Regions from separate parts of the Homo sapiens genome. Here region 1 is linked to region 2. The links come from fine-mapping of genetic effects on gene expression. Tissue or cell type: prefrontal cortex. Region 2 holds a variant in brackets; the other region holds the start of a gene. All regions are shown on one strand. Distances are between the middles of the regions.

Region 1 (8,514 bases), 20 kb after region 2:
TGGACACCCCTGCTCTAAAGCTTTCCAAGCTGACTTAATGACTGACCTACATCAATCTCTACAGTGCTTCTCGTTGAGTCCCTTTTTCTGTTTGTTTGTTTTTTGAGACAGAGTCTCACTGTGTCACCAGGCTGGAGTGCAGTGGTGTGATCTCGGCTCACTGCAACCTCCGCCTCCTGGATTCAGGCGATTGTCCTGCCTCACCCTCCTGAGTAGCTGGGACTACAGGCATGTGCCACCATGCCCAGCTAATTTTTGTATTTTTATTTTTATTTTTTATTTATTTATTTTTTGAGACAGAGTCTCGCTCTGTCGCCCAGGCTGCAATGCAGTGGCGCAATCTTGGCTCACTGCAAGCTCCACCTCCCAGGTTCACGGCATTCTCCTGCCTCAGCCTCCCGAGTAGCTGGGACTACAGGCACCCCCCCACCACGCCCGGCTAATTTTTTTGTATTTTTAGTAGAGACAGGGTTTCACCGTGCTAGCCAGGATGGTCTCGATCTCCTGACCTCGTGATCTGCCCGCCTCAGCCTCCCAAAGTGCTGGGATTACAGGCGTGAGCCACTGTGCCTGGCCTTTTGTATTTTTAGTAGAGATGGGGTTTCACCGTGTTGGCCAGGATGGCCTTGATCTCCTGACCTTGTGATCTGCCTGCCTCGGCCTCCCAAAGTGCTGGGATTACAGGTGTGAGCCACCATGCCCGGCCATGTTTTATTTCTTTTTATTTTTTTTGAGATGGAGTCTTGCTCTGTTTCCCAGGCTGGAGTGCAGTGGTGCGATCTCGGCTCACTGCGACCTCCGCCTCCTGGGTTCAAGCAATTCTTCTGCCTCAGCCTCCCGAGTAGCTGGGATTATAGGCATGTGCCACCACGCCCTGCTAATTTTTTTTTTTTTAATTATTTTTCTAGTAGAGATGGGGTTTCACCATATTGGCCAGGCTGGTCTGGAACTCCTGACCTCGTGATCTGCCCCCTTGGCCTCCCAAAGTGCTGGGATTACAGGCTTGAGCCACCGTGCCCAGCCCTAACTTTTAAAATTTTTTACTAAAATCTCAGTGTTCTAAGTCCTGCTGGTGAGTCCATAGGGATCCCAGGTAGGATGGTGGATGCCAGTTCAGAGAGGGTCACTGTACCCCACTCACGTGACCTCAAGGGTCACTGTTCAGCCAGGTGAGTCAGCACTAGGTCCTTGCCAGGATGCAGCAGTGGCTGGAGGACTGAGCTCACAAATTACACCCTAAAACCTTGTGGTCGGTAAGGGACACGTGAGGCCCTTTGAGGAAGAGAGAAGGTCCCCTTGTGCCCCAGCCAGCTTCCCATTAGGGTAATTACCATCTTCTGCTCAAATGTCCCCGGCCAGTGCTGCACTGTGGCAGTGATGAGGCTGCACGTCCAAAGAGTGCTCTGGGGTGGTGGCCAGTCGTGGTGAGAGCAATGTCCCCCACCTTGACTTCTGGCAAGAAGCAGTGAGACCTACTCAGTGGGGTGTTGCAAATGGAAGTCTTTTTTTTTTTCTTTTTTTATTTTTGAGATGGAGTCTCGCTCTGTCGCCCAGGCTGGAGTGCAGTGGCGCGATCTCGGCTCACTGCAAGCTCCGCCTCCTGGGTTCACGCCATTCTCCTGCTTTAGCCTCCCCAGTATCTGGAACTACAGGCACCCGACACCACTCCTGGCTAATTTTTTGTGTTTTTTAGTAGAGACGGGTTTCACCATGTTAGCCAGGATAGTCTCAATCTCCTGACCTCTTGATCCATCCGCCTCGGCCTCCCAAAGTGCTGGGATTACAGGAGTGAGCCACCGCGCTCGGCCACAAATGGAAGTCTTTATCCCCGTGCATTCTGAAGGGAGAAACCACCCTGTGTGTGGGACCAAGGATCAGCCTCAGACATCAGCAGAGAACAATTCCCCATCATCACACACCTGGCAGTGTGTGGGCCAGGGACTTTGGTTACCACGAATGTAGAGCGTGCTGCTCCTGTGGAATAAGATGCCTCATGGAAGGTTTTCTGCTGTTGCTCTTCTAAGCCAGAACTTGAAATTCCTAACTTACCCATCGTTGGTACCCATGCTGCGGGTGGCAGGGACAAATCAGGAGGGGAGATCTGCTTGAGTGCCAGGTTTGTGGTACATGGTATTCAGGGCATGGCACCCCATCCCCACCCCGCTCATCTCCAATTTTCCTTCTGCAAAACCCCACTGCGCCTATTAGTCTTTATGCATCTATTTACTAGAGACAGGGTCTCACCGTCACCCAGGCTGGAGTGCAGTGGTGCAATCACAGCGCACTGCAACCTCGACCTCCCAGGCTCAAGTGGTCCTCCTGCCTTACCCTCCCAAGTAGCTGGGACCACCGGCACACACCTCCACACCTGGCTAATGTTTTTAAAGTTTTGTAGCGATAGGGTCTCATGTTGCCCTGGCAGGTCTCGAACTCCTGGGTTCAAGCCATCGGGTTGCCTCGGCCTCCCAAAGTGCTGGGATTACAGGCATGAGCCACCGTGCCCAGCCCACTCCTGTTACTTTTGGTTGTGTTTTAGCTTGGGGAACCAACAAAAGATGTGAATGTTGCCCCGCTGTTGATTATAAAAACTTTAGGCATGGCTGGGCACAGTGGCTCATGCCTGTAATCCCAGCACTTTGAGAGGCCGAGGCGGGCGGATCATGAGGTCAGGAGATTGAGACCATCCTAGCTAATACAGTGAAACCCCGTCTCTACTAAAAAAATACAAAAAATTAGCTGGGCGTGGTGGCAGGCGCCTGTAGTCTCAGCTACTCAGGAGGCTGAGGCAGGAGAATGGCGTAAACCTGGGAGGGGAGCTTGCAGTGAGCAGAGATCGCGTCACTGCACTCTAGCCTGGGCAACAGAGCGCGACTCTGCCTCAAAACAAACAAACAAACAAACTTTAGGCACAATTCGTCATCATCAGCCTCCTTTCTGCTTACAGATGAAAAGTCCAGCTGGACGGGACGACATGGCTCATGCCTGCAACCCCAGCACCCTGGGAGGCTGAGGCAGGGGGATCACCTGAGGTCAGGATTTCGAGACCGGCCTGGCCGACATGGCGAAACCACCCAAAAAATTACCCGGGTGTGGTGGTGGGCGCCTGTAGTTCCAGCTACTTTGAGGCTGAGGCAGGAGAAACGCTTGAATCTGGGAGGTAGAGGTTGCAGTGAGCCAAGGTTGCGCCACTGCACTCCAGCCTGGGCGATAAGAGCAAAACTCCTTCTCAAAAAAAAAAAAAAGAAAGGGAAAGAAAAGAAAAGTCCAGCTGGACTGGGCGCGGTTGCTCACGCTTGTAATCCCAGTACTTTGGGAGACCAAGGTGGCCTGACTGCTTGAGCCCAGGAATTCAAGACCAGCCTGGGCAACATGGTGAGATCCCATCTCCACAAAAAATAAAAACAATCAGCTGGGCGTGGTGGTTCATGCCTTTAGTCCCATCTACTCAGGAAGCTGACGTGGGAGGATCACTTGACCCCAGGAATTTGAGGTTATAGTGAGCTACGATTGTACCATTGCACTTCAGCCTGGGTGAGACCTTGTCTCTAAAAAAAAAAAAAGAAAAAAAAATCATTGTGGAACTTCTTTTCTGGGATGGGATCTCACTGTGTTGTCCAGGCAGGTCCAGAACTCCTGGGAGACCAGCGAACTTTAAGTGCCCCAAGTTTCACCTCGGACCTGCATCAGAATCTCCAGCCCTGGAGCCCAGGAATCTGCATTTCTTGCCCCCGGGTGGTACTGGCAGCACCCAGGCTTGGGACCGTTTATGCCCCAACTGCATTTTCTTGCCCACTTATTCAGATCTGGCACAACTATGAAGAGGCCTCGGGATGAGCCCCAGCCGAGTTCCCCTTGCGTCCCTCAGGCAAACACCCAGTGTCCAGGAGTGACCCGGCCTGAAGACACAAACACGCCCCAAATGCGATGCACGCCATCACTGGCCAACCGTGTGTGTTTATTTTTCACGGACACCCTGGAGACGTCACTGCAGGCACATTCCCTGCTAGGCAGAGGCATTTATTAAGGGCTTCATACCCGAAGGCCGGATGCGGGGAGTCGCCCTCACCCCAGCCACCCTGCGACAACCCCTGGAGGTCACCTTGCCCGGGGCTCGGGGAGGCCACTGCGGGCTTTGTCTGCTCAGCTCCTCCCGGCTCCCTCCCGCGTTCCCAGCGGCAAACCTCCCAGGCCCCCCGCGGTCACCGCAGTGTCCCGGGCTGGATGCCGGCCCGGGCTTTTGTGGGCATCGGCCGTCTGGGTCTGCGGGGGAGCGCCGGGGGTGTCACCGCGTGTCCGAGCGCGCGGGCCCTGGCCCATGTCTGCAGCCCCCAACCCTCCCCCCGGTCCTGCCCAGCACCCCGGAGGGGTTCGCACCCCGGCCTCGGCCCCGCGCCCCCGCGTCCCCAGCCCTGAGCCCCAGCCCCTCCGCACCTACCCGCGCCCCGCCCTGCCCCTCACCCGTCCCCCTCCGGGCCTCTCCCCGCGCGCCCTCCACTCCCCGCCCCGCCCCGCGTCCCTCCCCCTCCGCGCCCCGCCCCCCGCGCCCTCCGCGCCCCGCCCCCGTCGCCGCCCCGCCCCCAACCTGAGGCGCTCGCGCGGGGCGGGGCGGCCAGGCTGACCCTGCGCGGCGGAAGGCGCGGCTGCATGGACGCGGGTCCGGCGCGCGGGAGGCGATGACGGCCCCGCCATGGCCCGGGCGGGCAGCTGCGGCGGCGCCGCGGCGGGCGCAGGGCGGCCGGAGCCCTGGGAGCTGTCCCTGGAGGAGGTGCTGAAGGCCTACGAGCAGCCGCTCAACGAGGAGCAGGCGTGGGCCGTGTGCTTCCAGGGCTGCCGCGGGCTGCGGGGCTCGCCGGGCCGGCGCCTGCGGGATACCGGGGACCTCCTGCTGCGCGGGGACGGCTCGGTCGGGGCGCGGGAGCCCGAGGCCGCGGGTGAGGCCGGGGGCGGGGCAGCCGGCGGGGACCGCGGTCTGGGGCGTCCGTCCCGCCCCCTGGGTGGGGGTGGTCCCGGCGGAGAGGCTGCGACCGGTTCTGGAGCGGGAGATCCCCTTCTCTGCGGGACCCGGAGCTCCCTCCCTCCCACTCTCCGTCCCTCTTTCCCTCTCTCTTTCCTCCCTCCTTCTCTCCCTCCTTCCTCTCCCTCCCCGGCCCTGGACGTTCCCCTCCCGGACCCCCCCACCTGACGCCTCTCCCAGCGCGGAGCGGGCTGCTCCCCAGTGGCCTGGCTTCCTCCGGGAGAGGGACTTGGGCCGGTGGCTCAGGGAGCACGGAGCTGGCCTTTGCTGGGGCGACTCCTCCCCTGCCTTCAGCAGGAAAGGAGACAGAAGCGTCCCCTTGGGGCATTTTCTCCTGGGTGGAAGGTGGGGGGCTGCGCCTCACTTGGCGTCTGAACTGACACTAAATTCCTGGGTTTAACTGGGAGAGGAAGGGGTGTGTAAAGTTGGGGGGACAACCTGCTTGGTGTTTCTATTCTTAACCATCAACCAGAACCAACAATTAAGCCCTAGAAAGATACTTGAAGTTAGTGAGAATGGTGAGCTTAAGTGATTATTTACCCTTTACGAAAAAAACCGAAAGTGATTTCTTCCCTGGAGAGCTGGAGTGCTGGCTTGGAGCATGTGATATGACCCCAAAAGCTGGTACCCTGCCGGGGGGCAGAGGCAGGCTGTGTGTTTGCCGCACTCTCTCCAGGCCTGAGAGCTGTGGGTTTGCATGAGCAGGCCTATGTGGAGGACCAGGAAGGGCCAGGGCAAGGCCAGACAGAAGCAAGCTACAGAGCCACGAGGGGTGGGGGCCGTTGTGCCCCACCCAAGGGCCCTTGTTCCTTCACCAGGTCCTGCTCATCCTGGAGCCCCCCCCTCAGCTGCCTCCACACTCCTGCCATTTGCAGTATCCCACACAGGTGACAGCAAGAGCAGGCCCTGAGGTTTTACTCCCTCTGGAGAAACCTGAGGCGCAGGCTTGCGCTGGCACTCAGACAGTGGCAGCGTTCAGATTCACTGTGGCGTCCCTCAGGGCTGTGCCCACTGCCGCCCAGAGGGTGGGGTGAGACGGCAGGTGCATGGGGCCCAGGAGGCTGCATGCTCACAGAGCCTCTGTGAAAGGGTGCCTGGACTTCACCCCATTCCTGGAGATAAGTGCAGAGCAGGAGGAGGCTGTAGGCAGCCTGGTTCGTCTGACCCTCTGACTGTAAAGATGGGGAAACCGAGGCACACAGTGGTAAGTGGTTTGCCGGGTGGTTAGAATCCAGAGCTCCTCATTTGTCCTAGCTGTGCGGGAGCCCAGCCGCCTGCTTCCTGTTGGTGCTGTGCAAGGCGTCCTCAGAGCAGTGATCTGATTCTCTCCACCTCCATCCCTGGGTGGTGTGGCCCCTTCCTGGTCCTCACAGCCCCGGCAGCAGTTCCTGGCTGGGGTTCAAAGTTCAGGTAGGGCACTGTGTTGACCTTAGGGGGTGGTACCCACCTGTGGTCCAGTTCATTTTTTATTTGATAACGATCTTTGTTTTCTGTTCATAACCCTGTCTCATGAAGGCGAATGAGTTTTATGACTTGCTCTCTCTTGAAGGTTTAAGAAAAATCTATTACCCTGAACTTTCTGTGCCATCCTTGTGGTGCTTCTGAGTCAGCTGAGACATCAGGCCAGCTGTCTCCTCAAAGGTGGCTAACCCAGCCTTTCTCTGGGACTTAAGTGATAAGTAAATACATTAAAAGATGCATACTTATTTCTCCCTGTAGATATCAATAGGAAAACATCCAATCTCACTTGTTGGCATTGTAGTCTCAGTTTTTTGCTCCAGTTGAATTTCTCAACCTGTAACCTTGGGTCTTCAGTACCCACCCTCTCACACAAACTGAATATGGGCAGTAGGTGTGTAAAACCACTTTGAAAAAAACCAACAACAAACTAGACCATACTTAGGAGGATGAATAATATTATCTTAGCACACAAGTAGTAATACTTCTCATTTCCAAGCCAAGATTAGGAAAAAAATGACTAGAAGAGACTTCCTAATCTTTACTCTGAAGACTTTGTAACTGCTTAGAATCTTTTTTTTTTTTTTTTTTTGAGAGGGAGTCTCGCTCTGTTGCCCAGGCTGGAGTGCAGCGGCACAATCTCTGCTCACTGCAAGCTCCACCTCCCGGGTTCACGCCATTCTCCTGCCTCAGCCTCCCGAGTAGCTGGGACTACAGGCGCCCGCCACCACGCCCGGCTAATTTTTTGTATTTTTAGTAGAGACGGGGTTTCACCGTGTTAGCCAGGATGGTCTCGATCTCCTGACCTCGTGATCTGCCCACCTCGGCCTTCCAAAGTGCTGGGATTACAGGCGTGAGCCACTGCGCCCAGCTGGGTGGTTTCTCAAATACATCTCAGACGTGGTGCTAATGAGGGTCTGTGTGGTCCATGTGCAAGGTGGGTGGGATGGCCCTTCCTTCCGTCACCTGCCCTCTTCACCCTGATTGGCTACTTTACACGTGACCCTATTTTTTGAATGTTTTTTCTTGTCAACTTTGGATGCTAAACTTTTTTTCTTTCTTTCTTTTTTTTTTTTTTTTATGAGACAGTCTCGCTCTGTCGCCCAGGCTGGAGTGCAGTGGCGCGTTCTCGGCTCACTGCAAGCTTCGCCTACTGGGTTCACGCCATTCTCCTGCCTCAGCGTCCCGAGTAGCTGGGACTACATGCGCCCGCCACCACGCCCGGCTAATTTTTTGTATTTTTAGTAGAGACTGGGTTTCACTGTGTTAGCCAGAATGGTCTCGATCTCCTGACCTCATGATCCGCCCACCTCGGCCTCCCAAAGTGCTGGGATTACAGGCGTAAGCCACCACGCCTGGCCTGGATGCTAAACTTTTTCACAGGCAGGCCCCGCTCTTTACGCTAGGATGCCCCACGTTGCTGGTCCTCCAGGTATCCCCCGCCCTTTCTCCTGCCCCTCCCCCTTCTGCCCGGCTCTCAGGCCATCTGCCTCTAAGGCACCCTTAGAGCACTGGCTCTGGGGTTCTGCTGTTTCGCAGCCCCGCGCACTCCCAGATGTCTAAGCCTTCCCAACCTGTTCATCTCGCGGCCTGTGTTCTAAACAGAAACATCCATAGTGATCTAGGCAGCACGGGGCACCGTGTCCACGTCCAGAGCTCTGCAGAGGGCGAAGCTCTTCCCTCCTCTGGTTCCCTCCATCCCGCGCCGTGCTGATGAGCAGGCCCCAGCTTCTTGCTCCCATTCCTCCTCAAGGCGGAGTGATGGCAGCGCGTGCCCGCGTGAGGCAAGAGAGGGGCTCTGGGCCCAGGAAGCACCCCATGGTTACGGCCCATGTGAAGGGGCATCCTTTTCACCCACGGAAGCCCGTTTGTGTGTCTGTGCTGGAGTCCACCTTTGCCGAGGAGCACCGTGGCCTCGAGCCCGCAGCCAGCCTGCCTGTTCTGCCGCTGGATCTGGGCTGGCTGGGCCTCCTCAGTGGCCAGGACTGTCTGGTGAGCTTGCCTTTATTTTAAAATAGCAGTCTGCAAACGTGTGCACATGA
Region 2 (8,000 bases):
CCATCTTCTGACAAACCCAACTACTCCTCAAACTGGGTTGGTCCCTAGTCTGAGCCATCCTCTGGTCTCTCAGCACCTTCTTAGTTTGTGGGGGGACATTACAGTCCCAAGTTTTTCTCATAATATCATTCCTCAGGAAGGCCAGGCATAGTGGCTCACGCCTATAATCCCAGCACTTTGGGAGGCCGAGGGGGGTGCATCACGAGGTCAGGAGTTCAAGAGCAGCCTGGCCAACCTAATGAAACCCCGTCTCTACTAAAAATACAAAAAAAAAATTAGCCGGGCATGGTGCCACGTGCCTGCAGTCCCAGCTACTAAGGAGGTTGAGGCAGAGAATCACTTGAACCCAGGAGGCGGAGGTTGCAGTGAGCTGAGATCGCGCCACTGTACTCCAGCCTGGGCGACAGAAGGAAGCAGCTGCGGTCACTCTATGGGAAAGGTGAATGGAAACACTTAAACTCATGTCAAGGCCGACTTACTAGTATTTCCACATCAGTCAAGTAAAATGCAACCCCACAACAGGCTGAGACTGGGAGTCTGTCATGCCAGGTTCCCACGGCCACGGAGAGACAGGCTGTTCTGCCTCGCAGAGCTCTTGAGAGCAGAAGGCATTATCACAGATCAAAATGAGTTTTACCCAAGAACCCGCATCTTGTCATGAACGCACCAGAAAGCATGGCCCTGGCGACGTCAGCATGCTGGCAGGATGCTTCCATCTGTTCACAAAGGCAGCACAGATTCCTGAAGAGCCACGATCCCACAGCATGCATGTCGGGATGGCTGGAGACACACACAGAGGCAGACGTAAGGCTCAACTAAATCCCATCATCAGGGGATTGAGTTGAGCCATATGTCCCAATTTTTTTTTTGAGACAGTTTTTTGCTGTCACTGAGGCTGGAGTGCAGTGGCGCAATCAGTCACTGCACCCTCGACCTCCCAGGCTCAAGCAATCCTTCCACCTCAGCCTCCTGAGTAGTTGGGACAACAGGCGCATACCACCACGCCCAGCTGGAGGTCTTACTACTTTGCCCAGGCTGGACTCAAACTCCCGGGCTCAAAACAATCTCCCACCTTGCCCTCCCAAAGTGCTGGGATGACTGGTGTGGCACTGTGCCCAGTCTCAAGTTATTTTCTAATTTCCCTTGTGACTTCTTTGACTCATTATGTTAACTTTCAAATATTGTGGATTTTCCCAATTCCCTTCTGTTGTTTATTCTAATTAAATTCATTTGTGGTTAGAGAACATATTTTGAATGATTTCAGCCCTTCTAAATTTATTCCTCTTTGTTTTATGGCCTGAACCTTTTTTTTTTCTCTTGAAACAGTTTTGCTCTTGTCATCCAGGCTGGAGTGCAATGGCACAATCTCAGCTCACTACAACCTCCGCCTCCCAAGTTCAAGCGATTCTCCTGCCTCAGCCTCCACAACGGCTGGGATTACAGGCACCTGCCACCTTGCCCAGCTAATTTTTGTAATTTTAGTAGAGACAGGGTTTCACCACGTTGGACAGGCTGGTCTTGAACTCCTGACCTCAGGTGATCTGCCCGCCTCAGCCTCCCAAAGTGCTGGGATTACAGGTGTGAGCCACCGCACCTGGCCTTGGCCTGAACCTTATGCTGTATCCTGGGGACTGTTCCATTTGGACTTACGAATACACACTCTGCTACTACTGGGTAGAGTGCTCCACAGTCAGTCAGGTCAGCTGGTTTGCAGCATTCAACTTCTATATCATTCTTTTTTTTTTTTTTTTTTTTAATTGATCATTCTTGGGTGTTTCTCGCAGAGGGGGATTTGGCAGGGTCATAGGACAATGGTGGAGGGAAGGTCAGCAGATAAACAAGTGAACAAAGGTCTCTGGTTTTCCTAGGCAGAGGACCCTGAGGCCTTCTGCAGTGTTTGTGTCCCTGGGTACTTGAGATTAGGGAGTGGTGATGACTCTTAACGAGCATGCTGCCTTCAAGCATCTGTTTAACAAAGCATATCTTGCACCGCCCTTAATCCATTTAACCCTGAGTGGACACAGCACATGTTTCAGAGAGCACAGGGTTGGGGGCAAGGTCACAGATCAACAGGATCCCAAGGCAGAAGAATTTCTCTTAGTACAGAACAAAATGAAAAGTCTCCCGTGTCTACTTCTTTCTACACAGACACAGCAACCATCTGATTTCGCAATCTTTTCCCCACCCTTCCCCCCTTTGTATTCCATAAAACCGCCATTGTCATCATGGCCCGTTCTCAATGAGCTGTTGGGTACACCTCCCAGACGGGGTGGTGGCCGGGTAGAGGGGCTCCTCACTTCCCAGTATGGGCGGCCGGGCAGAGGCGCCCCTCACCTCCTGGACAGGGCGGCTGGCCGGGCGGGGGGCTGACTCCCCCACCTCCCTCCCGGACGGGGCGGCTGTTCTATATCATTCTTAATCTAACTTGTTCTACCCATTACTGAAAGGGGAGTATTGAAACCTCTAATGATTATTGCTGAAATGTCTACTTCTCCCTTTAATTCTGGCCATTTTTGCTTCATAGATTTTGGTGCTGAGATAAGATGTGTATATCCTAGGAAGCAGGTTTTTCTTTTTTTTTTTTTTTTTGAGATGAAATTCTGCTCTAGGCCGAGGCGGGAGGATCACAAGATCAGGAGTTCGAGACCAGCCTAGCCAACATGGTGAAACCCCATCTCTACTAAACATACAAAAATTAGCCGGGTGTGGTGGCACGCGCCTGTAGTCCCAGCTACTGAGGAGGCAGGGGCAGAATTGCTTGAATCCGGGAAGCGGAGGTTGCAGCGAGCCCAGATCTCACCACTGCACTCCAGCCTGGCGACATAGCAGGTCTCTGTCTCAAAAAGAAAAAAAAAGGCCGCGCGAGGTGGCTCATGCCTGTAATCCCAGCACTTTGGGAGGCCGAGGCAGGGGAATCACCTGAGGTTAGGAGTTTGACACCAGCCTGGCTAACATGGCGAAACCACATCTCTACTAAAAATAACAAAAATTGCCAGGCACAGTGGTTCATGCCTGTAATCCCAGCGCTTTGGGAGGCAGAGGCGGGCAGATCCTGAAGTCAGGA[G/A]ATGGAGCCCATCCTGGCTAACATGGTGAAACCCAGTCTCTACTAAAAATACAAAAATTAGCCAGGCGTGGTGGCGGACGCCTGTAGTCCCAGCTACTCGGGAAGCTGAGGCAGGAGAATGGCGTGAACCCGGGAGGTGGAGCCTGCAGTGAGCCGACATCACGTCACTGCACTCCAGCCTGGGTGACAGAACGAGACTCTGTCCCTAAAAAAAATAAATACATAACAAAAATTAGCTGCGTGTGGTGGCGGGCGCCTGTAATCCCAGCGACTTGGGAGGCTGAGGCAGGAGAATTGCTTGAACCCTGGAGGTGGAGGTTGTAGTGAGCTGAAATCGTGCCACTGCACTCCCACCTGGGCCACAGAGCGAGACTCCGTCTCAAAAAAAAAACAGACAAAAAGCAAACAAAACCAAAACACCATAAACGTTCTCTTGAAATAATAAAGCAATAGTTCCTCCAGGTCTAGTCTAGTATAAATATGCAATGCAATCTAGTCTAGTACAAATTATATGTCAAAGCCAGAAATCAAACCCGTCTGATTCTGGGCTTTGAAATATAATTTATACTAGACTAGACTGCAAAAACAGTAACACTGAATCATCATTAGCACGCTACCTTTCCAGCAGCTCTTGCAGGCTCACAATGCCTTGTACGTGAAGATGCCACACCGCTTCAAGCAACAAAGAACTCTGAAAAACAAAACAAAACAAACAAAAACAAAAACAAAAAAACCCCCAGCATTCTGAGTCCTTTATGAATGCATTTTCCTACAAAATGTTCAACTTAGGTTCTTAACCATGCCGTATTGAAAATTAACCTCAAGCAAAAACTTAGAGCCTGAAACACATCTTTTTTTACAAAGCTGTACTGGTTTTCAAACTCCCTGGCCTTTGGGCACCCACACACCGTTGCCCAACACTTGCTTCTCTTCCTTCTCTCTTCCTACGCACTGTAGCCTACTTCTAACCCTTTCTCCACACTACAGCCAACACAGTATTACACACACTGACATGACAGTCTCTCCTTCAGAAGCCTTCACTGGCTCCTCGAAGCTGCCAGGACAAAGGTCAGGCTTCAGTGTGCCCTGTGCATGTCCCTTGTCTTTCTCACTCAACCCTCTCCCATTTGATAAAACAGGATCTGCTTTAGCCACTCACTGTGAACACTGTGCCTGTCACACTGCCCTGATCTCCCTGCAGCCTCCCCTTCTCATCCCCCTAACTCACACTCTATTTTTTTTTTTTTGAGACAGAGTCGCGCTCTGTCACCCAGGCTGGAGTGCAGTGGCGCCATCTCGGGTCACTGTAAGCTCTGCCTCCCGGGTTCACGCCATTCTCCTGCCTCAGCCTCCTGAGTAGCTGGGACTACAGGTGCCTGCCACCACACCCGGCTAATTTTTTCTATTTTTTAGTAGAGACGGGGTTTCACCGTGTTAGCCAGGATGGGCTCGATCTCCTGACCTCATGATCCACCTGCCTCGGCCTCCCAAAGTGCTGGGATTACAGGTGTGAGCCACTGGGCCCGGCCCCTAACTCGCACTCTTCACAGTCCGTGCAGGAAGGCTTTCCTAACTCTCCAATCTGATATGCATGTCCAACATCTTCTTCGCAAATCTGTGAGCACATGAATCATCGCACTTCTTGTGGATTTAGTGGCTTGTTTCCCAAGCTACGTGATAATGAGGGCAGGGACCAAAGCAATAACTGAAAAATCTAATGAATTCTATAATGTATGCTGGATAAAAGAATGGGAAAGGCCGGACGCAGTGGCTCACACCTGTAATCCCAGCACTTGGGAGGCCAAGATGGGCAGATCACCTGAGGTCAGGAATTGAAGACCAGCCTGGCCAACATGGTGAAACCTCATCTCTACTAAAGATACAAAAATTGGGCAGGGCGCGGTGACTCACACCTGTAATCCCGGCACTTTGGGAGGCCGAGGTGGGCAGATCATCTGAGGTCAGGAGTTTGAGACCAGCCTGACCAACATGGAGAAACCCCGTCTCTACTAAAAATACAAAAAAAATTAGCCAGGCATGGTGGCGCATGCCTGTAATCCCAGCTACTCGGGAGGCTGAGGCGGGAGAATGGCGTGAACCCGGGAGGCGGACGTTGCGATAAGCCAAGATAGCACCATTGCACTCCAGCCTGGGCAACAAGAGCAAAACTCCATCTCAAAAAAAAAAAAAGATACAAAAATTAACTGGGCATGGTGGCACGCGCCTGTAATCCCAGCTACTAAGGTGGCTGAGGCAGGACAATCGCTTGAACCTGGGAGGCAGACGTTGCAGTGAGCCAAGATTGCGCCACTGCACTCCAGCCTGGGCGGCAGAGCAATATTCTGTCTCAAAAATAAAAATAAATGCCAGGCGCGGTGGCTCACACTTGTAATCCCAGCACTTTGGGAGGCCGAGGTGGGCAGATCACGAGGTCAGGAGATCGAGACCATCCTGGCTAACACGGTGAAACCCCGTCTCTGCTAAAAAATACAAAAAATTAGCTGGGCGTGGTGGCAGTCACCTGTAGTCCCAGCTACTCGGGAGGCTGAGGCAGGAGAATGGCGTGAACCTGGGAGGTGGGGCTTGCAGTGAGCCAAGATCACGCCACTGCACTCCAGCCTGTGCGACAGAGCGAGACTTCGTCTCAAAAAAAAAAAAAAAAGACCAGCCTGGGCAACAAGGCGAGACCCTGTCTCTGGAAAAAAAAATTACATACATTTTTTTTTAATAGTTTACTATACTACCCTGGAAAATTCTCCATACTAATATACCCAAGGCTAAACGTGTTTTTCAATATATTCTAGTCTAATAAATATTACTAATGATAGGTGAATAGGGACAAAAAATGGCAATTGAAGGTACTTCTTTCCAATCCACAGATGATTTCTAAACCCTTTTTCATCCACTCTCTGTAATTAATGAGAAGCTTGGAGAATTCCCAAGAAAACCCAGGTACTCTGTTGCCTCCATCCAGATCAACAGAACATTGCCTGGAACACTGGAGAGTCAGATTTGCAATCTCAAATTTACCTGTATTTTCCATAATTCTTGACAGAAGGAAAGACGGGAGAACATACTGTGTGCCAATAAATACTGAGCAAACTCTAACAGGGAAGACAGCTTCTTCTGAAAAGAGAGATTACATTTTTTAAAAAACAAATTACCTGAAACAATACTAAAGCTATGTCCTATTTTCCCAACCAGCTTAAAAGTAACAACGGGCAGGTTTCCTCATCTTTGCTGGTGTCTTACTCTCTGCTCCACAGTCAGCAGCACAGGGTGACTGGTCTCCGCTGGAGCCGTGCAGATCTGTCCCACGCTAGAGGCAACCATCCCGGCTGAGAGAATACCCACGGGAACCCCCAGCCTTGAGGCTTGATCCTGCAAAGCAGAGCCTTAAACACAAAACAAAACCATAGCTTTCTCTTAACACATGAGACAAAATCTAAAACCAAAGACTTGCTGTTTAAAATGCCTTATTTTAAGATGCAGCACAAAAAAAATTGCCTTTTAAACGGGGAGAATAGATGCAAAGGGAAAAACATGAGATAAAAATGAGAATTTGATGATCCAAGCAGCTCACAATAAAACTGGTGGCAACACCTGAACCCAGAGTTATACATTGGTATTTGTTACGTTTCCCATGACACAAAAGGAGCAAGATAAAGAAATATATTCTGACCAAGAACTTTATCATCTTTTTACAAAGGAGCACAATAAATTGAGAACTGCAGCAGGCTCTTTCAATTACATTGTTTTTCTAATTACTTCAGAGATAAGCCTGCCCCTGTTGACTCACATTGATGGTTGTGATAAAATTAGGCAGGGATTTCCCAACATTCTGCCATGCACCTGGTGGGCAGGTGCAGTCACAGCTGTGCTCAGTCCGCAGGCCACCAAGTGGAACCTCACTAACAGCCTGCAGGCAGCCACCATTCTCCTGAGCAACCAGCCACTGGTCTGCATTCAATAAAGTGAGAAACGGTGGGCAACCTGGAAGCAGGCAATGCCAAGAAATCATTTTCTAATTTATTTGTCTTCCAAAATTAATTTTTTTTTGTTTTATTTTTTTGCAATGGTGTCTTACACTGCCGCCTGGACTGAAGTGCAACGGCGCCATCTCAGCTCACTGCAACCTCCGCCTCTCAGGTTCAAGCGATTCTCCTGCCTCAGCCTCCCAAGTAGCTGGGATTACAGGCACGCGTCACTACGCCCAGTTAATTTTTTGTATTTTTAGTAGAGATGGGGTTTCACTATGTTGGCTAGGCTCGTCTCCAATTCCCAACCTCATTAATCCGCCCGCCTCGGCCTCCCATACTGCTGGGATTACAGGTGTGAGCCACCACGTGAGCCAAAATTAATTGTTTAAAGAAACCGGGCCGGGCACGGTGGCTCACGCCTGTAATCCCAGCACTTTGGGAGGCCGAGGCGGGCGGATTACAAGGTCAGGAGATCGAGACCATCCTGGCTAACACGGTGAAACCCTGTCTCTACTAAAGACACAAAAACAAAATTAGCCAGGTTTGGTGACGGGAGCCTGTAGTCCCAGCTACTCAGGAGGCTGAGGCGAAGAATGGCGTGAACCCAGGAGGCGGAGTTTGCAGTGAGCCGAGATCACGCCACTACACTGCAGTCTGGGCGACAGAGCCAGACTTCATCTCAAAAAAACAAAACAAAAAAAAACTGGAGGCCAGGCTCAGTGGGTCCCTCCTGTAATCCCAGCACTTTGGGAGGCCGAGGCGGGTGGATCACCTGAGGTCGGGAGTTTGAGACCAGCCTGACCAACATGGTGAAACCCTATCTCTACTAAAAATACAAAATTAGCCAGGCGTGGTGGTGCATGCCTGTAATACCAGCTACTCAGGAGGCTGAGGCAGGAGAATCACTTTAACTAGGGAGGCAGAGGTTGCGGTGAGTCGAGATCACACCATTGCAC

The links.
Region 1: it holds the start of SPIRE2, and the variant in region 2 is fine-mapped to the expression of SPIRE2 in prefrontal cortex (GTEx, PIP 0.91).

The regions. Positions count from the first base shown.
Region 1 is chr16:89,823,864-89,832,377 of GRCh38, forward strand. It overlaps SPIRE2 (spire type actin nucleation factor 2), which reads left to right and starts at 4,612. Exons shown (of 15, transcript NM_032451.2): 1 at 4,612-4,931. The coding sequence starts at 4,688. RefSeq lists a silencer at 4,666-4,755.
Region 2 is chr16:89,804,613-89,812,612 of GRCh38, forward strand. FANCA (FA complementation group A) reads right to left here. Exons shown (of 43, transcript NM_000135.4): 4 at 6,317-6,459; 5 at 6,095-6,190; 6 at 3,682-3,755; 7 at 668-780. Among named protein-coding and RNA genes, the nearest start is that of FANCA, 8.0 kb to the right of the region's middle. RefSeq lists an enhancer at 1,932-2,454. The variant G/A (reference allele first, on the strand shown) is at 3,065.